Homo sapiens: one gene and its partners. The protein of the gene in region 1 purifies or fractionates together with the protein of each later gene. This does not show direct contact. Each region holds a gene or a part of one and is shown in the gene's direction. Other genes may lie near its edges. The genes, in order: TSPAN5, TVP23C, TMEM87A, AGPAT3, RDH12, MRM2 and SLC7A2.

What was found.
Region 2: the proteins of TSPAN5 (region 1) and TVP23C purify together in Homo sapiens (affinity purification with mass spectrometry, with the first as the bait; 3 studies listed by BioGRID). This does not show direct contact.
Region 3: the proteins of TSPAN5 (region 1) and TMEM87A purify together in Homo sapiens (affinity purification with mass spectrometry; 3 studies listed by BioGRID and IntAct, with this or other methods). This does not show direct contact.
Region 4: the proteins of TSPAN5 (region 1) and AGPAT3 purify together in Homo sapiens (affinity purification with mass spectrometry; 3 studies listed by BioGRID and IntAct, with this or other methods). This does not show direct contact.
Region 5: the proteins of TSPAN5 (region 1) and RDH12 purify together in Homo sapiens (affinity purification with mass spectrometry; 3 studies listed by BioGRID and IntAct, with this or other methods). This does not show direct contact.
Region 6: the proteins of TSPAN5 (region 1) and MRM2 purify together in Homo sapiens (affinity purification with mass spectrometry; 3 studies listed by BioGRID and IntAct, with this or other methods). This does not show direct contact.
Region 7: the proteins of TSPAN5 (region 1) and SLC7A2 purify together in Homo sapiens (affinity purification with mass spectrometry; 3 studies listed by BioGRID and IntAct, with this or other methods). This does not show direct contact.

The regions. Positions count from the first base shown.
Region 1 is NC_000004.12:98,477,112-98,480,611, reverse strand, and holds part of TSPAN5 (tetraspanin-5), read left to right. Parts: intron 1-1,801; coding exon 1,802-1,927; intron 1,928-3,500. UniProt on the Homo sapiens protein: Part of TspanC8 subgroup, composed of 6 members that interact with the transmembrane metalloprotease ADAM10.
Region 2 is NC_000017.11:15,539,484-15,542,983, reverse strand, and holds part of TVP23C (Golgi apparatus membrane protein TVP23 homolog C), read left to right. Parts: intron 1-2,422; coding exon 2,423-2,572; 3' UTR 2,573-3,500.
Region 3 is NC_000015.10:42,231,934-42,235,433, reverse strand, and holds part of TMEM87A (transmembrane protein 87A isoform 1 precursor), read left to right. Parts: intron 1-2,127; coding exon 2,128-2,221; intron 2,222-3,500. UniProt on the Homo sapiens protein: Potential monoatomic ion channel gated by mechanical force, implicated in normal touch sensitivity through the generation of mechanically activated currents.
Region 4 is NC_000021.9:43,966,223-43,969,722, forward strand, and holds part of AGPAT3 (1-acyl-sn-glycerol-3-phosphate acyltransferase gamma), read left to right. Parts: intron 1-1,723; coding exon 1,724-1,893; intron 1,894-2,895; coding exon 2,896-3,057; intron 3,058-3,500. UniProt on the Homo sapiens protein: Converts 1-acyl-sn-glycerol-3-phosphate (lysophosphatidic acid or LPA) into 1,2-diacyl-sn-glycerol-3-phosphate (phosphatidic acid or PA) by incorporating an acyl moiety at the sn-2 position of the glycerol backbone.
Region 5 is NC_000014.9:67,718,886-67,722,385, forward strand, and holds part of RDH12 (retinol dehydrogenase 12), read left to right. Parts: intron 1-1,928; exon of another isoform or gene 1,929-1,962; 5' UTR 1,963-2,017; intron 2,018-3,500. UniProt on the Homo sapiens protein: Retinoids dehydrogenase/reductase with a clear preference for NADP. Displays high activity towards 9-cis, 11-cis and all-trans-retinal. Shows very weak activity towards 13-cis-retinol.
Region 6 is NC_000007.14:2,236,451-2,239,205, reverse strand, and holds part of MRM2 (rRNA methyltransferase 2, mitochondrial), read left to right. Parts: intron 1-2,755. UniProt on the Homo sapiens protein: S-adenosyl-L-methionine-dependent 2'-O-ribose methyltransferase that catalyzes the formation of 2'-O-methyluridine at position 1369 (Um1369) in the 16S mitochondrial large subunit ribosomal RNA (mtLSU rRNA), a universally conserved modification in the peptidyl transferase domain of the mtLSU rRNA.
Region 7 is NC_000008.11:17,566,588-17,570,087, forward strand, and holds part of SLC7A2 (cationic amino acid transporter 2), read left to right. Parts: 3' UTR 1-3,500. UniProt on the Homo sapiens protein: Functions as a permease involved in the transport of the cationic amino acids (L-arginine, L-lysine, L-ornithine and L-homoarginine); the affinity for its substrates differs between isoforms created by alternative splicing.

The DNA.
Region 1 (3,500 bases):
TTTCTTTTTGCATCATGGAATGTAATGTTTAGAAGTAGCTGTTGGTCCGGAAGGTCTTCAAATGGTTGAGACTTGATATTTATTTAACTCAGAGAAGTAGAGAAAGTGCATCCCAGGGAAGTGAGGAAGGGGCTTGTGTAGTAGCCTTTGACTCCGGCCCCATTTAAGAACCACTGAATTTAACCGCTTGTTTTAATATATTTTAATTGGAAGACTGACTTTTTAAAGTTGAAAATGTAAAACACATGCACTTGTTTTTAAACAAACTCAGAGTAGAAACAAATATGATGAAAAGTTAACCTCTAAAATTTTTGGTGGTAATGGATATATCAACTATATATCCATTGATTGTGGTGACATTTTTGTGATGTATACAGATGTCAAAATTTATCAAATTGTATACTTTAAAATGTGCAATTTATTGTATGTCAGTTATACCTCCATTATTGCGGGATCTGGCCAGCAGCCTGCAATGCAACAGGGATCTCTCTGTTCCCAGGCGGATCGGCAGGTCGAGAAATAATAGACACACACAAGATAGTGAAAGCTGGGTCCAGGGGGGTCACCGCCTTCTGGTCACGCAGTGCCAACAATGCACTGGATATACCAGAATTTATTATTAAGTTTAGTGAGGGTGGGGGTAGGTTAGTGAGGGATTTAGGTCATTTGATTATGAGGTGAGATGGTCACATGGGGATGAAGTAATTCTTTAACATAACATCTGTATGCAAAAGTACAGTATACAGGGATAAGAATTTACAATATAGTGTGTGCTTCAGTAATTTCTAACAGAGCCTTAAAACAGAAACACAGTCTTTCCACAACCTATGATTAGCAAGATATTAGTCAGCAGTAACAGTTGCAGCAAAAGCCAGTTACAAACAATCCATAGAAACAGGACGTGAAGCTACACAACCAGTTAGACCAGAAATTCTCAGAAGGGAGTATGCCTTAACCCTAAAGAGGTCTAGAAGAGCCGTGGCAAGATGAGGGCATTTATAGCCCTGTCTTATACATATGGACAGGTGCCCCTCATGTGTCTGTTTATAGGCTCTCCACAAAGGTCGCATTCTATTCCCAGAGCTATGAACATCTGCTTTTCTGGGATAGGAATCTTGGTGATGTGAAACCTCCCTGACTGCACGTCCATTCATAGGCTCTCTGCAGGGGGAAGCACATCACGCACTGTTGGCTCATTCTGGCAGTCCAACCTGGCATTGTCTTTACACAATCCTGCATGCAATTTTGTATTTCCAGTAATCAGGAGCATTTCATCTTTTATTCCATAGCAATAGTTTCAGGGGGTCTCCCTGCGCTCCATAAAACAAAACAGATCTTTAAAAAAACTATTAGAATGTAGAGATCAAAACTTTGAAAAAGTAAGCTATAGTTAGCCCACCCATAACCCCAGTTGCCTCCTTCAGTCACTACCACTGTCGTTAGTGTCTTATTTACCCTTCTAGAATGTTCTTGTTTCTCCTTCTAGAATGACGTGCCCAAGCCAAACAGATCTTGTTCTAACTGAGCCCTGCTGTACAGCTGCTCTGCCCTTCTTCCACCTAACACCACAGGTCTCATCAGTTGTTTAAATCACGTGCCAACACATCCCTACAAACCTTCAGCCCTAATTAATTTGGAAGATTTTATATGGGCCATTTAGGTTCAGTTTGGCTTAAAAATAAAGTCTAGGACAGAAAAGAAGGTCAGAGCTGGCAGAAGCTGGTGTCGTTCGGCGGGTGTGAGTGTAGGTGACTGCTTGCCTCCAAGTTGGGATGTTCTAATTCTTTCCTGTTTGCTCTAGTGGCAGTGCTGTGGGGCTTTTGGAGCTGATGATTGGAACCTAAATATTTACTTCAATTGCACAGATTCCAATGCAAGTCGAGAGCGATGTGGCGTTCCATTCTCCTGCTGCACTAAAGATCCCGCAGTAAGTGAATGCCAGCGAACTATTGGCCTACTCTGTACATCATGCCGAGAGTGTGCATGGGACGAGCAGAGTGATTTTTTGGTTGAACCCTCTTCTTACCTGGTTACTCGTATTTGTAGCTCCTGTAGGGGGTTATGGTGCTCAAATCTTCCTAGTAGGAGTAATAATTGCTGGCATTAATTTAGCAGTGTGTGCTGGTTCCTATTCTAAGCCTTTATGTGTGTTGGCTCATTTAAGTTGGGCACATTCCTACTGGCAGATACCACCATTACCCTCCCTTTTCAGGGGAAGAAATCAAGGCACATGAGGTGTAAGTGACTTTCCCAAGCTTGCACTGCTAGCAGGCAATGGAGTGGAATATGAGACCCAGGCAACTTGCCTGTATCATCTGTTAGCCTTTCTTCATGAGAAGGGCAGGCTCATATGAGAGCTCTCTGCATTGGTTTGGGGTTAGTAACCCTTTTCTTTTTGGCTTAGTTCTAGGGGAACTATTAGGAGTAGGAGGAGAGTTTGAGACAAGATAGGCCTGGACTGCTGTGTAGGAAGACCACAGCTGCCCAGACTCCTGAATGTCATCATGACTATAGTCATGCAGTTTGCATTTTATTATAAAAAAGAATAAAATATAAAATCTATTTGTAAGTCACTCACTTTTGCCACAGGTTTGATTATATTTTGTGTCAAATCGTGCCTGGTATATAGAATGACTTAAAATGCAATTCTTAAGCCAGGCATAGTAGTTCACACCTGTAATCCCAGCACTTTGGCAGGCTGAGGTGGGAGGATCCCTTGAGCCCAGGAGTTAAAGACCAGCCTGAGCAACATAGTGAGACCCCATCTCTACAAAAAAATTAAAAAATTAGCCATGTGTGGTGGCACACACCCGTGGTCCCATCTACTCTGGAGGCTGAAACAGGATCACTTGAGCCCAGGAGTTTGAGGCTGCAGTGAGCCATGATCATGCCACTGCCCTCCATCCTGGTGACAGAGTGAGACCACAATTCTTAAAAAAAAAAAAAAAAGGTAACTCTCTAGTGTTAGAATGACAAACATGAGAGGTTACTCCACGCATCTCTGTGTGCTCCTAGCTGCAGAACCCTTCTGGGACTCCTCAACTGTTCTCTGGCCCTGCAGTCTCCAGATGTACTCCCCAAGGCTCGCCCTTACCCCTCAGAAGCAGAGCCGAGTGGGTGCTGATGAGCTCAGTGGGGATGCTCCTTCTTATGGTGGAGGCTGTGGGGCTCTTAAAAGGAGCTATGGTCTTGGAGTGGAAAAGCAGAACTTCCCTGTGGGCTTCCTCCAGGGGACCACCTCAGCTGTTTCTCTTGGTCTGAAAGAGGAGACAAAGTCACTAAGGACTGTGCTGCCCCGCCAGCTGCCCTTCCCACCAGCTCAAACCTCCTCTCCCTTCTGAGGAGAGCCACATGGCAGCAGAGTGCCCACTCAGAGCTTGAGGGGCTCATCCTGGTGGCCTTGCACTGGCCAGCGGGTGCCGCACAGTGCGCCTCCTGTCGCCAGTTCCTGTCCCACATTAACACTCCCTTGGGAGAATTCTGTATTCTCAGAGGCATTA
Region 2 (3,500 bases), on another chromosome or scaffold:
TTTCTACTTCCTTAAAACAAAACAGGGAGAGGTTATGTGAAAGCCAGTTTGATCCTGTGTTAACCTACTTATGCCTAGTGTTCCATTATTGGAACGCTAAGCATGTAGGAGTTATTTATATCCTACTGCTCAAGGTAATCACCAAGGTCTGATTTTTCACTCATGCAAAAATTCACAAAATTGCAGCCTACAGCATAAATGGGTTAAGACCTTGGCATGGTGGCTCATGCCTGTAATCCCAGCACTTTGGGAGGGCCAAGGCGGGCGGATCACGAGGTCAGGAGATCGAGACCATCCTGGCTAACACGGTGAAACCCTGTCTCTACTAAAAATAAAAAAATTAGCCGGGTGTGGTGGCAGGCACCTGTAGTCCCAGTTACTCGGGAGGCTGAGGCAGGAGAATGGAGTGAACCCAGGAGGCGGAGTTTGCAGTGAGCTGAGATCGTGCCACCGCACTCCAGCCTGAGTGACAGAGCGAGACTCCGTCTCAAAAAATAAATAAATAAAAATAAATAAATAAAAATAATAAAAATAAATGGGTTAAGACCACAGGACGGGAATGGGCTTCACCCAGTCTCTCCATGAGTCTCCCACCTCCTCACTTCTCTTAAGATGATCATCTCTCATGATTATTGATCCTTCTGCGCTTCGTCTCCTGCCTTCTTCCCACCCGGTGGCACCACTATGGCCAGCTGCAGGGATTTTCCTGCCTGTTTGGGTCATTGTTAGTTGGGAGGAGTTTCTGCTGTCATGGCTATTTCTGCATTTTTTTCTCGGGTCTTTTGCTTTTCTATAAGTTCCTGGGGATGGTAATTATTAGTGAAATTTTCCTTAGAGCTTCTTTGCAGAGTTTGGAGCTATGTAGAGCTGCTCCAACCTGGCTCTTTCTTTGGCCACCAGCCCTTTTTTGTGTTTGTTGGTATTAGTTTATTTGTGTTTTTAAAAACGCTGTTTGCTGTTTGTACCTTAAGGGCAGGGAGATCTTCATGTCTGACTTCACTGCACCATCTTAAACCAGAAGTTTAACTTACAGATTTTAACATTTGTTGCCATTGAGTAAATCGATGCCTTAGCAGGACCCGTGATTGGTCTTTGAATTCAGGTGTACCCTGGCATGTTGATATATACAATACCCAGCAGTGCCCCATTTGAGAAGCATGGGAAATTAAAAGGAAATTTATTCAAATAAATACACAGTTTTATATTTATTTAGGAAACTAGCACCCTCTTATTACACTAACACGTTTAATTCCATGAAACATAAGTTTAGAACAGAAAGTACCACCTCCTCTTCTTTTACTAGGAATGTGAACCTGTTCATTAATCAAACATTTAAATCTATTAATTAAACATTAAAATCAGCTATACATCTTGTTAAGGGTAAGGAGAATAAATCTAGATTGGAAAACGACATTTCATTGAGCTGCTTTGCTTGTCACAGATATAAAAGAGTAGAATGGTCGATGAGCTGTTTATTCCAGAACAAGGGTTGGCAAACTATGGCCTGCAGACCAAATCCAGCCCGACACCTGTTTTTGTAAGTTTTTATTGAAAAACAGCCTTGCCCACTTATATATTGTCTATGGCTGCCTTTGGATTAGAACAGCAGAGTTGAGTAATTGCAACAGAGACCGTATGGTCTGAAATATTTATGATTTGACCCTTTACAGGAGAACTTTGCTGATCACTGTATTAGAGTCTTTAACCTTGGGAATCCCTCACATTGTCTCAATTTTTCTAATTAAGATTAATTAGAAATTTTTAAAGAATGGGTTTTGAGTTTCTTTTTCTCACTTCTCATTGATCCTAGTGGGATCACCATAGGTGAGAAAATGAAACTCAAAGGAACAAACAGCTCTGCAAAAGTACAGTTCCCCTTGGAGCTGTCTCTCTCCTCGGGGAAGGCAGGCATCGGTTGATTTATGCCTTAGGGCATTGCATCCCCTCTACCAGAAGCCAGTTGTCACGTAGAGCAGAGATTCACCCCTACCTGCTCTCAGTTTATTGAACTTGATCTACCTCTTGACTGTTCTTTTGTAATTCCTATAGGAATAATTAACATTTGAACCTTTCCTGAGTCTCATTTACTTTTCCTAACTTTACTCACAGACCAATGGGAAACAGAGAGCAAGAAGGCTCCCCCTGCACTGCATCCCCAGCAGCTAGCATGGTGCCTGGCACATAGAGCAGTTGTGTCCAGTAAATATTTGCTGGGTGAATGACTCGTGCCTTGTGCAGAGCGTCTATCAGATGGGTCTGTTCTGGCAACTGTCTCTGGAAAATCTCAACTGGCACAATCATGGCTTTGCAGAGCTTCCTCTTCCTTCTCTTTCTCATGACAGTCTGCCTTGTCTCATTTATGGCACAGAGAAAGGTCAATTTCAGGCCAGTAACCGTTGATTATTTTTTTCCCTTGTCCCAGGCGGTGGTTATTATGGGTGTGGTGCTACAAGGTGCCAACCTGTATGGTTACATCAGGTGTAAGGTGCGCAGCAGAAAGCATTTAACCAGCATGGCTACTTCATATTTTGGAAAGCAGTTTTTAAGACAAGTAAGTGTTTTCTGGATGTGATCAGTGACTAATGCAATTATTTCTAACTTTCATAGTTTAATTTTTATGAAACGCTCCTGAACAGAAGTTTTAAAGGCATATAGTTGTATAAATATAATGATAAAGATGTTGTAATTGCTCTTTGGGGGTGTTCAAGACAGTCTGGAAGTGTATTGTCAGTATCCTAAAATTATTTTAAAGCCAGGAAGGATAAACTATCATTGATAATAACTTATTTTTTAAAAATTACTTTTAAGTTCAGTTGTTTTTCATCAATTATGGGAGCTTTAAGTGAATGCCCTTGCAGAATGTATGTTGTATGTTTTTATTTTTATTTTTTGAGACAGAGTTTTGCTCTGTCGCCCAGGCTGGAGTGCAGTGGTGCAATCTCGGCTCACTGCAACCTCTGCCCCCCGGGTTCATGTGATTCTCCTGCCTCAGCCTTATGAGTAGCTGGGATTACAGGCGCATGCCACCACGCCCAGCTAATTTTTTGTATTTTCAGTAGAGATGGGATTTCATCATGTTAGCCAGGATGGTCTCCATCTCATGACCTTGTGATCTGCCCACCTCAGCCTCCCAAAGTGCTGGGATTACAGGCGTGAGCCACCGTGCCCAGCCTGTATGTTGTATGGTTTTAGGGAGAACAGTTGAATCACAAGAAGACCATAACATTTGTACTCAGATGTTTTTTTCCCCCTAGAACATAAGGATTTTACTATAATACCTCAACATCAGGGTTTTCAGCAGGATGAGTAGTAGTCATAGGTAAATAATTATTGGTTAAATCTCTTGGGAAAAGTGACTAGGTCTTTTTTTTTTTTTTTCTTGAGATGGAGTCTTGCTCTGTCGCCCAGGCTGGAGTGCAGTGGCGTGATCTCGGCTTACTGCAAGCTCCGCCTCCCGGGTTCACGCCATTCTCCTGCATCAGCCTCCCGAGTAGCTGGGA
Region 3 (3,500 bases), on another chromosome or scaffold:
ATTAGATAACTAAGTAGGGGAAACAAAGGGGAGAGGTTGGGGCAGAGATAAAAGTTTGGGAGTCATGAAGATAAAGATATTATTTAAAGTCATGAAGGCCAGGCGTGGTGGCTTACGCCATAATCCTCACACTTTGGGAGGCCAAGGCGGGCAGATTGCCTGAGGTCAGGAGTTCAAGACCAGCCTGGACAACACAGTGAAACCCTGTGTCTGCTAAAATACAAAAAATTAGCCGGCTGTGGTGGCATGCACCTGTAGTCCCAGCTACTTGGAAGGCTGAGGCAAGAGAATCGCTTGAACCCTGGAGGCGGAGATTGCAGTGAGCCAAGATCATGCCACTGCACTCTAGCCTGGGTAACAGAACGAGACTCCATCTCCAAAGTTAAATAAATAAATAAATAAAGTCATGAGACTGGATTTGGTCACCAAGGAAGTGAGTATATATAGAGAAGAGGTCCAAGGGCTGGGCCCTTGAATATTTAATATTATTTAGAAGTCTGTAAGATGAAGTAGTTAGCAGAAGAAATTGAGGAGAGACCAGTGAGGTGGGTAGAAAACTGAAGAATGTGTTTCAAGGAGGAAGTGATTGTGTCAAGAGATCCTGATAGGTCAAGTGAGAATTGGCCATTGAGTTTACCTATATGGAGGGTCATAGTGATAGTTTTGGTGAAGAGATAGGGACAAAAGCCTAATTGGGGAGAGTTCCAGAGAGTATAGGAGGAGAGGAATTAGAATAATTGTATAGACAATTATTTAAAGGAATTTTGCTTTAAGTGGGATTAAGTAATGCTATAGCATCACTTTATAGTGCTTTAAGTAGGATTAAGGTTAGTTGTTTTAAGTTTGTTTATTCAATTAAAGGAGTTTTGCTTTAAATGGGATTAGAGATATGGGGAATTTTAATTCTTAAAACTTATTTATTTAACAATTATTTGAGTGCCTCCTATATGCCAGGAAGTATTCTAGGTTTCCAAGATGAATGGGGAGAAAATTCCCTGCTCATATGGAGTTTTCCCCAATGTATAACAAAAAATATAAGAACAAATATTGGTAAGGCCTATGCAGACATGATTTAAGGCAGCACATCTTAAACTACACTACACTAAGGAATCACCTAAGGATTTTGTTAACATGTGGATTCTGGTTGTGTAGGATTTTGAATCTCAAGGAGTTAAGACTTTTTCTCCTTCAAACAGAAGTTGCTCAGAAGACTTTTCATATATTAGGTTTCGAGCTTGCAAATATACTATTTAATGAACCGTAATAGGATATTTGATTATATTAAGGAATCGTTAGAATTTTTAGATTTGATGGTGGTATCTTGGTGATGTTTTTTAAAAGTTTCTTTTGTGGGCCAGGCACAGTGGCTCATGCCTGTAATCCCAGCCCTTGGGGAGGCCAATGCAGGAGAATCGCTTAAGCCTAGGAGTTCTAGACCAGCCTGGGCAACACGGTGAGACCTTGTCTCTACAAAACATCAAAAAAAAAAAAAAAAATTAGCCTGGTGTAGTGGGACGTGCCTGTAGTCCTCAGCTACTCGGGAGGCTGAGGTGGGAGGGTTGCTTGAGCCCAGGAGTTCACGGCTCCAGTGACTGGGCCACTGCACTTCAGCGTGGGCGATAGAGTGAGACCCTGTTTCTTTAGGGGAAAAAAAGAAAGGCCCTTTTGTAGCCATTGAAATACCAAAGAAAAATAAGGTCCTCATTTATTAAAAACACATACTGAAATATATCAAAGATATACTGTCTAGGATTTGCATCAAGAGAATATGAAAGGGTGGAAAGGGGATGGGGTATGCATGGGACAAAACTGACCATAGGTTAGTGGTTGTTGGGCCTTGGTGAAGGGTTTATAAGGGTGCATTATACTACTTGTGAATATGTTTCAAAACTCTCTGAGGAAACATTTTTTAAAATGTGGTAACCAGACACAAGATCTCAAGTTGTAGTGTTCCCTATCTTGTTTTAAGACCATAAGGTCTTAGTTTTTTTCTCTTAGGTGAATCAAGTGTATATTATTTATTGCTTTAAATTGTTGGCCTATATTAATTAACACAAGTTCCTGTTACTTAGCTTGTTTCGGCATTTGTCCCATATGTACTCAAATATCTCCTTGCTTCCTCTTTAGGCCACGCCTTGGAGTCACTCTTCATAAGGTTGTAGTAGCAGGAGCCCTCTATCTTTTGTTCTCTGGCATGGAAGGGGTCCTCAGAGTTACTGGGGTTAGTACTGCTTAATCTCATTTTCTGTGGTCAGTTCAATTATATTGTTTACATCTTGACAGTGTGGATTGGAAATGTCTGTGGGCTTCTTTCTGTTTGCTTTAAGTCACTTTTGGGCTCTGATTTTCAAAATATATGTATAGTTCATGTTCTCTTTTAAATCTATTAGAGCTTTGTAAATTTAGTGTGTGCCCGAATGAATGCTTTTCCACCTGTCTCCAAATTGCTAATTGTTTTAGTTCCTCCTCCCAAGCAGTAGACTTGCATTTTTTTTTCTTTTTCTAATCAATGGAATCCAGACTGAAATCCAGACTGAAATTCTTGTGTAAATGGCAGACTTTGGAGTCATACACTTACTAGTTAATCTAATCTAAAGTAACTGTTGTTTCTTAACATTTCAGTTTCAAAAACTTCCTTAAAATGCAGCTAATGAGGCTGGGTGTGTAATCATGCCTGTAATCCCAGCATTTTGGGAGGCCGAGGCAGGCGGATCACTAGGTCAGAAGATCAAGACCATCCTGGCTAACATGGTGAAACCCTGTCTCTACTAAAAAAAAAAAAAATACGAGAAATTAGCTGGGCGTGGTGGCAGGCGCCTGTAGTCCCAGCTACTTGGGAGACTGAGGCAGGAGAATGGTGTGAACTCGGGAGGCGGAGCTTGCAGTGAGCCGAGATCGTGCCACTGCACTCCAGCCTGGGCGACAGAGCAAGACTCCGTCTCAAAAAAAGAAAAAAAAATGCAGCTAATGAAGTTTCACACCATTTTTGAGAATTGTATAATTATTCCCTTTGCCAGGGAAGGAAACCAAAGAATCTAAGTGATAAAGAAATTTATGGCTGGGAGCAGTGGTGGGTGCCTGTAGTCCTGGCTACTTGGGAGGCTGAGGTGGAAGGACTGATTGAGTTCAGGCTGCGGTGAGCCATGATCATGCCATTACACTCCAGCAACAGAGTGATACCTCTTCCTTAAAAAAGAGGAGAAAAGAAATTTATGTTACCACTGGATTAATACGAAGAAGTATAAGGTTCTCTAGGCCATTTCAATTAATTTTCTTATTTTTTAAAAAAAGACTCCACAGCAACCTATTAGATTCAATATTGTAAAAACTATAAACTTGGCTTTGCCCACAAGAAAACGGCTCAATATGTTTTGCAATAAATTGCCTCTTAAATCAAACACTTTGTGGATGCACATTTGCTTTTCAAATCACACTGTCCTCTGTATGTAATTCTCTTAGACTTCTAGCAACTTTAACCCTCTGTCAATTTCATTTTCTTT
Region 4 (3,500 bases), on another chromosome or scaffold:
GCGCAGCTCGTCTTTCCAGAACACTCATGGGGAGTGTGCCTGTGTCTGGCTGGCTGTGTGGGCTCCCATTCAGTTCATTCCCCTTCTCCAGCCTTTAGGCATGACCCTAAAGGCAGAGGTCTCAAGCACTTGCCAGGGGTGAGCCAGCGGTGGGGGCGCCCCTGCCAGGGCAGGCCTGCTGTGGGGGCTTGGTCAGCGAGTCTTCTCCCCACACGCAGGATTTCCTCCCGTCCACTGCCTCTGCCCACAGGTGACCTTTCTCTTTTAAAGGAATTGGGGTCCCTTGGTACCCCCACAAACCCTGAGTTCCCTCTCTCCTTTCTGCGTCCTTTCTGCTCGCCTGCATGTGCCTGCAGCATCATGACCGCTGGGAAGACACTTCCCTGCACCTGCACGCTGTCTGCAGGCGTCTCTGGCCATCCTGGGCTGAGCTGCGTGATCTCGGGTAGCGGCCCTTTGTTCACCCGTGCAGGATGTCTTTGGAATTGGTCTCTAGTGTCCTTTATAAATAACTGGTATAAAAGAACCCCGGGCAATGGCCTTGCAGAAAGCCCACACTTCAGAGCTGGGCTGGTGTCCAGCGCGAGAAGCCTGAGGCCGTCCTGAGCTGGAAGCCGCGTCCTGGTTCTGTGGGGCCATCCTTCCCGGACAACTGGCTGGGGGGCACAAGACTCTGGTGGCCGACAAGAGGCCCACCTGCTTGGCCTCCCTCTTGTCCTTCCCCACATGGCCCTCTGAACAGGACTAACTCCCTCTGAGGCCCACGTGTGACAAAGATGCACCGTTCTCACCACGGAACTCTTCAGCCCTGCAGTTCTCCCGAAGGTGAATGAGGGCATCCCAGAGTCCCCATCAGGAGACAGACGATGCTGCGTTCCCAGCAGCCCCAGAGCCCTCCCAGGCGTGCAGGTCTCCTGCCGGCAAACAGATCTCCCGGCACGAGCCCCTCCACACTTCTGGGAAGAGTGTCTTCAGCTCACCAGGCCGGAGCCAGGGGAAGAGACCAAGGGAGGAGGCTCCAAGAACCCCTGGGTGGGGGGGACAAGCACTCAAAGCCAGGACTGGCACCCCTCACATGCCAGCACCCACGGGGTCAGGTGTGCCCTGCTGTCTCTGGGGACCCCGCAGGCCTCTGGCCACCTGCCCAGCAGCAAGCCCCGTCGAGCACCCCCAGCCGGCCTTCCTGGGGGCGGGCTAGGCCTCACATGGCTTTTTTTTAAATATGGAAAACCAGTGTAACCCCAAAGCAAGTTTTAGGAGAAAATATAATTCCTATTACTCTGTCGTCTATAATTCCATTCTGCTCTTAACTCTTCATTTTTTCCCACTGTCTGTTCTGCAGACATACGATGGTTGTTTTCTGCTTCCTAATCATCTAGTGACATTTTTCATCTTCTGCACCTCTCACGGGGCGTGGCTGTGCGGTACTCGGCCACACCAAGGTGCACGTGAGAAGCGTAATTGGGCGTAAAGATCAGCGTCTCCATGCAGAGTGGCGGTTCTCTCCCTTTCTGCTGCTACCTTCCATCTGTCTCCTCCCAACTGTTGCTTAGAGAAAGTTATTGTAATTTCATAAAACGTACTCAGTGTAAGTCATCAAAACTCATGTTTAGCAGAGACTTCCTCTCTGGACAAAAATACTGTAGGTGTCTCCTGTGGGCGCTCCCTGACCATCCCAGGAGGAGGGGTCCTACCAGTGCCAACGCCCTCCCCCTGTCCGCAGAACTGGTCATGCTGCTGGAGTGGTGGTCCTGCACGGAGTGTACACTGTTCACGGACCAGGCCACGGTAGAGCGCTTTGGGAAGGAGCACGCAGTCATCATCCTCAACCACAACTTCGAGATCGACTTCCTCTGTGGGTGGACCATGTGTGAGCGCTTCGGAGTGCTGGGGGTGAGCGGGGACCTGGGGAGGGCCACGGGTGAGCAGGAGGGTCCCGGGGAGGGCCGGGGGTGAGCGGGGACCCAGGGAGGGCCGGGGTGAGCAGGGGGTCCCTGCAGGGCTGGGGGTGGGGTGGTGACTGGGAGTGAGCTGGGCGGGGTCCCAGGAGGGCTGGGGATGAGCAGGGTGGGGTGGTCCTGGGGAGGGCTGGGGGTGAGTGGGGGGTCCCAGGGAGAGGCTAGGGTGAGCACCTTCCAGGGGAGGTGCTGGGAGTGAGCGGCAAGGGTCCTGGGGAGGATCTGGGGGAGTAGGCGGGTGCTGGGGTGAGCAAGAGGGCCCTGGGTGGGGGAGGTACTGGGTGGAGCAGTGGGGGTCCCAGCAGAGGAGCTGGGAGAGCCTTGGGTTTCCCAGGGAAAGGGCTAGGGGAGCAGGGGACTCCCTGAGGAGGTGCCGGGGAGGCCCCTGGGGTCCGAGTCCCTGGGTGTTCCTCCTGGGGCGTCTCTTTGAGCTCGGCAGTGGTGCCTGGCTGGTTGAGGGGCCCTGGCCCGCAGGGCCTCAGCTGTCCCCGAGCTGTGCCCTCCTTTCTCATCATGGCCTTTGCCTTTGAGATGACCCCACCTGCGTCCCTGCAGAACCACTTCCGTTAGCTAAGCTGCCTCAGATGAAACCTAAACTACTCCCCGATGCTGGCAGAAGAATTTCATTGCAGTCAAAGCCCCTGTGTGAGGCAGCACCCCCAGGCCACCCCCCGGAAGCCTGGCAGCCTCTGCATCCGGCTCATCCACCTTCCCTGAGGGCCCTCCCAGCCAAGCCTGAGCCTCAGTTTCCTCATTTCTGGGGCGACCCACTCACCCTCAGAAGCCGGGTCCTGCTTCACAGCAGACCCCCTGAGCCACAAAGCCGTGACTCCTAGAGCGACACCACACAGGAGCTGGGTGCAGCGGGAGCCTGGCCAAGCCCCTGGCCTCTGTCCGACGCTGAAGTGCCAGGTGCCCCTCCTTCTCCTCCCTCCAGAGCTCCAAGGTCCTCGCTAAGAAGGAGCTGCTCTACGTGCCCCTCATCGGCTGGACGTGGTACTTTCTGGAGATTGTGTTCTGCAAGCGGAAGTGGGAGGAGGACCGGGACACCGTGGTCGAAGGGCTGAGGCGCCTGTCGGACTACCCCGAGTACATGTGGGTGAGTGCGCGGAGCAGCCCGATACCCTGCATGCCTGGAGGAGGCCACGCCAACTCCTGATGCACGGCTGCCCACATCCCAGGCTGGGAAACCCCATGAGAGCCTCTGCACATGGGGTGCTGTTTCCATGGGGCCATGACTCCCCCATCTGAGCTGCAGGCGTGGAGGCTTCTCTTGGGCCACCTGCTTGCTACTCGCCGCAATCCCAGCTCTGACCAGGCCATCCTAAGGGGATCTGGCCGGGGGAGGGGGCAGAGCAGGGTGCCCCCAGTGAGCCCTGGCTCTGCCCGCCCTGCTCAGTGTGCATCCCCATTCTTTTTCTGTCCCTTCTTCCTGGTCTGTCTTGGAAAATGGGCTGCCTGTGCTGTTAGCATTTCTGTTTTTTTGTTTTCTTGTTCGTTTTGTTGTGTGTGTTTTTGTGTGTGTGTGTGTGTTTGAAACGG
Region 5 (3,500 bases), on another chromosome or scaffold:
AATTTAACAAAGATAAACATGTAAGTTGTTGCAAAATGATACGGTTTTCAACAGAAATTAAGGCCATTGGGGCAGAGATAAATTGATAAAAGTTTATTGGAAGCCAAATGTGAGAATTTATCCAGTAAGATACACCAACAAAGTTGGGCATGTTCCAACATCTGTTACAAGTTGGAATGCTTTTATAAGACTGTTTAGGAGAAGGAAGGGGGACTCCTCATATCGGAGTTATCCTTTTCCATTGGAGGGTACAATACAGAGGTTACAATCATTGCCTATGGATGACAGCGTACAGGCTAAAATGTTTTATGCACAAGACAATCAGTAAAAACAAATCAGCAGAGCTTTATGATTTAGAAAGAAAACAATGTCCCTTTCAATGTCAGTATTAATCAGTAACCTGACAATTAATAAATACATAGTTTGAGGAACTCGCAATAGAATTTGAGTGCCTCACGATAAGATTCTTTACTCAGAGACAGGATGTAAGCCATCAGTCTTAAGACCTTTTCCAAGCAGTTCATTTGGAAGCCTGTGAAATGTGTCCTGCAGGTTATCAGGGTCTTTTTGCTGAAAAGTTTATTTATTTTTTCTTTTCTTTTTTTTAGAGACAGGGTCTTGCTCTGTTGCCCAGGCTGGAGTGTAGTGGCATGATCATGGCTCAATGCAGCCTCAACCTCCTGGGCTCAAGTGATCCTCCTGCCTCAGCCTCCCAAGTAGCTGGGACCACAGGTGTGTGCCACCAGGCCAGCTAATTTTTAGTTTTCCTTTTTGTAGAGACGGGGTCTCACTATGTTGCCCAGGTTGGTCTTGAACTTCTGGTCTCACGTGATCCTCCTGCCTCGGTTTCCCAAAGTGCAGGAATTACAGATGTAAGCCACAGTGCCCAACCAAAATTTAATGTTTATTTACTTAAGTTTTTTATTTATTCTGTTTCTTAATTATTTATTCTTTTTTTACAGCTGTATACTATCTATTATGTGGCTTTACTATTGATGGACATTTAGGAGGTTTCCAAACTTCTGCTATAATATACAATGCTATAATGGTAACCTTATAAATACATGGAAGTCGAATGTTTAGGTGAATGAGTGCATGCACAGCTTTACTAGACATTACAACACTTCTCTCTATGGAGGCTTTAACAATGGACTCTCCCACGAGCAATGCATCAGCATTATTTCTTCACATGCTTGCCAGTGGATCATACTACAATCTTTTTGACCTTTGGCAATCTGATAAGTGAAAAGTGGCTCCCAGTATAATTTTAATTTGCATCTCTCATATGAGTGAGGGTGAAGAGCCACTTGTATTTCCTTTTTTGTAAACTGCTATTTCAATTGGGTTGTTATTCCTTTTCTTACTGATTTGTAAGAGTTCTTTATCTACTAAATCAATTAGTCTCTTGTCTTCAAAGCCTGTTATGAATATTTCCCCCCAGTTTCTCATTTATCTTGCCTTGTGTATGATGGTTTTTGTCATGCTCATTTTTTAAGTTTTAGTTTTCAGTTTCCTGTCTTACTAGAAAGGTCTTACCACTCTAAAAATGTGTCCAGTGGTTCTTCTTAATACTTCAGTGGTTTCATTTCTCATACTTACGTCTTTGAGGTATTCGAATTTTGGAAGGATCAAGTTTGCTTTTTCCCAGCTGGATACCTAGGTGCCACAATACTTTGTTAATTAAATCATCTGTCCCTTCCACTGATTTGAAATGGCATTTTCATCATATCTAAATGCCCATGTGTATTTGGGTCTATTTCTTGCCTTTCCATTCTGTTCTATTGATTTGTCTGCCTATTCACCTACCTGTACTTAGTAGTATGGTTTAGCATTTTGGTACAACTTATCAATGATATGATGGTGGCCTTTGGATTATAATATTTAACATTTTATTTTAGCAAAGTGTTTGTGTATTTTCATAATTCTAGATGCCTTATGGTCCTTCTAATATCTTCTCTCCAGAGGACTGTATGCTGTTCTTAAGGACTCTCTGCTTCCTGGACAAGCTCAAGCTAAGGTGAGTACCATCTTCTTAAATGCAAGGATCTTAGATTTGAGTCAAGAAGTGTCTGCTGGGAATGATCTGATCACTCCTTGTTCTGTTGGTCAGGTCCATGGGTTTCCCCAGGGGCAGAAACTGTGTCTTCCTAGTATGTTGCACAATTCCTGGTGCAGAGAAACACTCAGTAAATGTGTGTTGAGGATGAACTGATGAATGAGGACATGAACACCTGCCTGCCACAGAAGTCTTTCATGCATGGGTGTTCCTGGAGGCTCCTCTGGCTTCACAGGAAGGGACAGAACTGGGAAATTATTCCTGGGGTCCTGTCCCAGCTCCTTGTCTATTCTTCTGTCCAAGAGAGGAACACAGAGCGAGGAAGGGCAATGAATCCCACTTACCCTTCTCCCATCTCACACACATCCAGAGGCACGATCCTAGCTCACTTCAACCTTGACCTCTGAGCTCAAGTGATCCTCCCTACTCAGCCTCCCGAGTAGCTAGGATTACAGGCACGCACCACCACACCCAGATAATTTTTTGTAGAGACAGGGTCTCACTAAGTTGCCTAAGCTCAGTCTTGAACTTCTGGCCTCAAGGGATCCCCCTACCTTGGGCTCTTTACCAGCATTTTCTTGTATTTCTCCTCATCTTCAATAGCATTCAACTGAAACATCACCCACGTTCATCATCTCTCCCTTTTCTACACCATGGCCTTGAGTAAAGCAAGTGAGATAGCAAGGGAGATACGAATCAGAACAGCTAACCATAACAGCTGACTCTTATATACTGTTTAGCATATGCCAGTTTCGTTTTCCACCAATGTAATAATTGAACACTTAGAACAAGTGGGGATATATATATATATATATATATATATGTATAACACATATATATATAAAACCATATATTATATATATAATCATACCCATTGTACAAGTGAGAAAACTGAGTTAACAGAGAGGTTTAGTAACTTGCCCAGGGCCGTGGAGCTTTTAAATAGATTCAGCGCTAGAGTCCATGCACTTAAACACCATACCTTTCCTTGTAATATGCATGTGCGTGTGTTAACTTCATTGAAGTAAAATATAAAATGCAGAAAAGTGCACAAGTCGAAAGCATACGACTCAGCAGATTTTCATAAAGTGAGCACACCCATGTACTAGCACCCAGATGAAAGAGCAGAGCACTCTCAGCCCTCCAGGAGTTCCAGTCATCTCCCTCCCCAGTCACTGCCCCCTCCTCCCTAAGGTTAACTGCTCTTCTGACGTCTCTCTCCATTCTTCTGGGAGTTTCCTTCCCATCCTATTTTAATCCACTCATATTTTAAGCATCATGGGGTTTGTGGCTAAAGTTAGAAATATTCTATATATTCCATCTTGCAGTAGAGGTGGCAGTGGTTGGGAGAACACATTTCCTAGAGAAGAGAAACAATTGAGGATGGGGGGTTTAGGGGGTACTTGCTTTAGTTTCCCCACATTCTCTTTGCCAGTAAACCTAA
Region 6 (2,755 bases), on another chromosome or scaffold:
TCACCTCGCATGAGACCGCCCGCAGGTACCAGCACCAGCATGGTGGTGTGCATCCTTCCAGGCTTGTGCATGCATAGATCCCTCACATTTTCAAAAGCGATGTTGTGCCATACTTTTCTTGCTAATTTGCAGCCTATTGGAGCTATTTTTGCTTAATGATACATACATATATGTATTATATATATATATATATATATATATATATATATATATATATATATATATATAATTATTATTGTTATTATTTTTGTTCTTCCCCCCCCTCCAGATGGAGTCTCACTCTTGCCCAGGCTGCAGTGCAATGGTGTGATCTCGGCTCACTGCAACCTCTGCCTACCTGGTTCAAGCGATTCTCCTGCCTCAGCCTCCCAAGTAGCTGGGATTACAGGCGCCCGCCACCGCACCCAGCTAATTTTTTCTTTTTGTTTTTTTAAGTAGAGATAGGGTTTCACTATGTTGGCTAGGCTGATCTCGAACTCTTGACCTCAGGTGATCTGCCCACCTCGGCCTCCCAAAGTGCTGGGATTACAGATGTGAGCCATGGTGCCCGGCTACTCTTAATGATGTATTGACATCTTTCCCCAACAGCACAGCTAAATTTCCAAGTCGCATAAGCCCTGGGGCTTTCCTGGTGGCCCCACTGGGGCTGCTCCGTCCGGAACCTAGAAGAGGCTTCATGGCCAGGGCTATGGATTCTTTGCTCTGGATGAAGCTGAGACACAGTTTTCATCTGTTTTGTATCTTAGGGTTTTGAGTAAGATTTTCTATATAAAAAGGTTCTCCTGAATAATGAGATCAGCCAACCGCCCATGCAACTGAAGACACTGTCGTCATTGGGAAAGTTTCATCCTATTCCATGTAGTGCTTGCACCGTAGGTTCTTTAACCAGCTCCCTCACTGTGGCATCAAGGTTGCTTTTGGCTTTTGGCTGGGATGCGTGTGCTGTGGTGAATATCCTTGCCATTTATGTTTCCTGCTGTAAAGCCAGGGTAGCTGCATGCACTGGCATTTGAACAGGGTGAGACAGTCCACCCAGAGCTCTCCCAAGTCTCTCCCAAATACCTTAGAGTAGGGACACTGGTCCCCATTTATTGGTGAGAAAACAGGCTCAGGGTTTCATGACTTGTTGAAAGTGCAGAAATGGAATGCTGGCCCCCTGGATCTGCACATCTGCCTCGCTGCTGGTTTGCGGTAGGTTTGCCATGAACTCTTGGTGTCTACCTGCATCCCCTTGGGTGGCCCCTGCCCATACTTAGGCGGGGATATGCCTCTTCGGGCTTTTCAACAGCATTTTTTTTTTTTTTTTTTTTTTTTGTTTATAGAGCCTCACTCTGTTGCCCAGGCTGGAGTGCAATGGCGCCATCTCGGCTCACTGTAATCTTTGCCTCCTGTGTTTAAGTGATTTCCGGCTAATTTTTGTATGTTTAGTAGAGATGAGGTTTTGCCATGTTGGCCAGGCTGGTCTCGAACTCCAGGCCTCAGGTGATCCGCCCGCCTCTGCCTCCCAGCATCCTCGAGGTGCTTCCTGGTGCTTCCATCGTGGTCAGCCTGAAAGCCTTTTTATTGTTTTTCAGCTCAACATTTATTGACTAAATAAGTGAATTTGTGTTGGAAATGTCAGTTCCTTTTCTCATTGCTGAGCTTATCACCGTGGAGTCCTCCTAGTAACTGATTTCAGTGGTTTCTGTTCCCCTAAGTGCTCTTGAGATGAAGCAGGAGAGTGGCCCAGCGTGCCTTGTAGGAGGAAGTGACAGAAGGAGAGAGCGTGAGCGTGATCTGCCTGGGCTTGTCCTCCCGGAAGTCACAAGCATGCAGCCAAAGCTGTTTGCCTTCGGTGGAAATTTCCGAAGGTTGTAACATACTGGATATTATAGGAGTGAAAGCTCAGGAGCATAAAGTGAGGCGTGAGGCCGGGCGCAGTGGCTCACACCTGTAATCCCAGTACTTTGGGAGGCCAAGGGGAGGATCACCTGAGGTCAGGAGTTCGAGACCAGCCTGGGCAATATGGTGAAACCCCCGTCTCTACAAAAAATTAGCCAGGTGTGGTGGCATGTTCCTGTGGTCCTAGCTCCTTGGGAAGCTGAGGTGGCAGGGGTCGCTCGAACCTGGGGAAGTCAAGGCTGCAGTGAGCTGAGGCCGTGCAACGGAGTGAGGCCTTGTCTCACACACACACACACAAAGACACACAAAGATAACTTGCTGATATTTGAGTAACACCAGTTTGCTAAAACTAAAAAGATGCCTTTGTGTCACCTTACGTAAAACAAGACTTGTTGCCTATAACTGATCTCAGCATCTGCCTCCCCCTCTTCTCACTCTGTACCTACATTCAAAGCCCCCTCTTCACAAGCCCAACGCCCCCATCTCCCCAACAGTCCCCTCCACTGAGGAGGGCCGTAGTTCTGTTGAGAAATTGTCAGAGTTGATAAGCTAAGGGTACAGTCACAGATTTTCTTGTTCAGTCTGCTTAACAGAAAGGCTGTTCCAACGGTAGGGGGAGAGAAAGGGACCGTGTTTCATTCCTAGTGTAAACATTGGAAGTCCAGGTATTTTGAAGATTACCTCATTTTTCAAAGGCGAAACCCCTCAGTCTTCACCCCAGGAAAATGGGACGCCTCACGCCTCATTTTAGCTGGGTCTCCTGAGTAGCTGAGACTACAGCTAATTTTTATATTTTTTTGTAGAGACAGGATCTTGCTATGTTGCCCAGGCTGGACTAGAACTCCTGGGCTCAAGTAATCCTCTTGCTTCAGCC
Region 7 (3,500 bases), on another chromosome or scaffold:
CATGATTATTTAAAACTGGAAACTAAAAAGAATCAAATTGAATTAAAGCTATATAAACACAGTTAACCCTTGTAAATGAGTAAACAAATTTTTACATGTAAGATTCTCTAATTGTCATATTTTACTTTTTAGGATTCCCTAATAGTGGACTGTTTATTTGCAGTGTATTTGCTTCTCATGAACTATTTCTCGTACAAATCATTAAATAGTTCATTGGATGAGGCTGGGTGACATTTCCCAGGACAGCATGGTGAACATTACCAGGCATGCTAGCTGGCCCGTGTAATCCCAAGACAAGGAAAACATTCGTTTTCCTCATGGGTCTTCCAAGAAATGAGCTATTTTATTGATGCCATTAAAAAGCAAGTTGCGATGGTTTTGTATAGCCAGGAGTTTATTGTGATTAAACATCAAAGAAACAGGTAGAAAGCCTGGGTTTCTGGCTGCTAGCGTTATAGCATCCATGACACAGAACTCATTACGGACATTCCACAACTTCCAGGGTGCACATGGTAAAATCTGAAGCCCAGAATTTTCTCTCAAGCTGCGTGGTTTACTGGAGAGAAGGAGTTGGATAAGCACAGGCTCGGGTATTTTGGTAGGGACTGTAGGCATGCTCATAAATCCTTGCTGTTGTCACAGTACGCTGAAAACCCGTTTGATTCTATACCCAATCAAGAATAGACCCTTCACACAGGAAATGTGAACAATTGTTATATATGAACACTCAAATCTTTTACTGTAACGAAACCAAGAAACTTGTTTAGAATGTGATAGGCAGCTAAAACTGTTATGCCCACTGTGCTCAATTTGAAGCAGAATTTAGTGAAAAATTATTTTTCCACATTGAAACACTTTGCAGACACAAATATCTATGAAAAGATGCTTTGTCAGCCACTGTGCCTTTTTTTCTGTGAAGACTCAACGGATGTGTGTGTTTGTATGTTTGTTAACAGTTACATATGTTTGTATGAGTGTATATATATATCTGTGTGTGTGTATCTCTAACGTCAGTGTATAAGTAAGTTGGGTTTATGGTGGGCTTTGACTATGTCATTAGGTGGGTACAAAACCCAACTGATGTGGAGAAAAATTGATGTTTGATGTTGATAGATATGCTTATACCTAATTTTTAGTTTTTAAACTATTTTAAAATATACTATGATTTTATATGTATATTTCCTATAGACTCTTTAAGACGTATTTATAATGTTTCTAATATGAAATCACTAAACTCTAGTACATTATAGCAGGTGCTTTGTAATCTGGAATGGAGAAGAGGTAGGGGCATTTGGGGATTCCTGTTTACTTGCTGCTGCCACACCTTTTCCGACTGATCTGTCCTGGTAGGTGTTTATTAGCAAAAGTCAGTATCACCAGCTCTTTGGCACCTTTCTGTTTCTGCTTGTGAATTCATAATGTTTTCAACTAAATTTTTTTTTTCTTTCTCAGAATTACCTAAATGTTTTGTAGAGTTTTGACTAGTAATCAATCAAAATTATATAAAGTCTTCTCCAGTAATTAAGAAATACATATGCAAATTCTTTTGTGATTGAGTAAAAGCAGCTTAAATTACTTTTCTTTTCTACATTAAGAAATATATTCTCAACATTTTCAGTGAGAATTTCTTGTAATGGCACCTCAAATTTTATACTCTTAAAAAAAAACAATAATTTGTGAATTACCACCAAAAGGCAATGGCAGTCCTACATTTAAGAATAGAGCTATGCAAACTCTGTTAAAAACTATGAGGAAAACTTATATTAGAACTTTTGATATATACTAAAATACTGATTATCTTAATCACATTTTCCCCAGAGATAAACATTGAGAGAACGAAAGCCAAAGTGTCATTTAAGAGAGATATATATGAAAAAGTAACATTAATATATAGAACTTTACCATCACCAGCCGTAGTTGATAGAAAATATTAGTTTCAGAATTACCCTCCTTTAAAAAATAAGAGACTATTTGTTTTCTTTTAATTTCTATGAATAAAAGAAATTTTTAAAAACTTTAAAATTTTAAATATTAGTCAAAATACTTTTTAAGTCCTGAGTGCTTACAGGTAGTTGTTAAAAAAATTTTAAGGCCAGGCATGGTGGCTCGCTCACACCTATAATCCTAGGATCTTGGGAGGTCGAGGCAAGCTGATCGCTTGAGCCCAGGAGTTTAAGACCGGCCTGAGTAGCATAGCAAGACCCTGTCTCTACAAAAAAAACAAAAATTAGCTGGGCATGGTGGCATGCACATGTAGTCAGAGCTACTGGGGGTGCTGAGGTGGGAGGATCGCTTGAGCCCAGGAGAGTGAGGCTGCAGTGAGCTGAGATTACGCCACTGCACTCTAGCCTGGGCAACGGTGAGACCCTGCCTCAAAAAAAATAAAAATAAAAATAAAACACTTTAATTAGAATCTATTTTTACCTATTTTCTAAATTTATTTAAATGCTTAGCAGGAAGCATAAGGAAAAGCCATCGGCCTCCAATACCCATGATGACAGAGGGAGCACTTGAGCCTTGCCTTCCCTCCTCTTAAATCAGGGTGTGTTCCGAGATTACAGAACATCACACCTTGGCGTGATGAAATCATGCCAAGATTCTGACTCTCCCTTTCCGGTGATACTGCTCATGATTTCTCCTAATACGCTTCAAGCAACTGTTACCACAAAAAATACAGTTTCCGCAGGGCTTTAAAGGATTGAGTTTAGCATGTATATCATGCGTTATTAAAGTTCACGTGATTCATGTGAAATTAACTGTCCTTTTTGCTAGTGCCAAAACAGTGCCTTCTCTGCACACTTTACTTGTTTATAAAGTTCTCCCACATGTCCTTAAATATCAAGGGGGAAAGTATGGATATTCGCGTAGCAATAATGCCAGCAAAGGTCATTTTCATTTTTTAGTCATATAGATATGAAAATAAGTTCATATAGATATGAAATTGCTTGACTTTATTGTTTTGGGGAGATTTTTTTTCCTTACATGATTATATTAAACACTTTAAAATAGCCTTCCGGTTTCTGGATTTTGAGAAGCCTGATCTGTTATTGTTGTGGTTGTTGGTGTTTGTAATATTCATTATTGTTTGTATATACACGGTTTAGTCTTACTGATTTCAAATGCATTTTGTTATTGCTCAACCCAACTGGTAACACTGTTTGCTGGGAGCATTATACTTAACTTTGATTCACCATGGTTGATGCCACTGCCATGATCGCTGGGTCTTAAAGAGCTTTCCCTAGCCACTGACAGCCCCGTGGAGATCATAATCAGGGCCCCAGGCTGGTTCCAGGATCAGGCAGCCTATAGAGTGTGAGCATCTATGTGTAGCTACCCTTGTTGGGTGGGCTCTTAGACTGATGGGGTAGGATATGAAGTGAAAGACTTCAAATGCAAGTAAGGTAGTTTGGGCTCCTTAATTCCAAACATCCCATGAGTATATCAAGATGAATAAGGACCAAGGGACCTCTGTGACTCATAGAAGGGCTGGCTGAATCCTG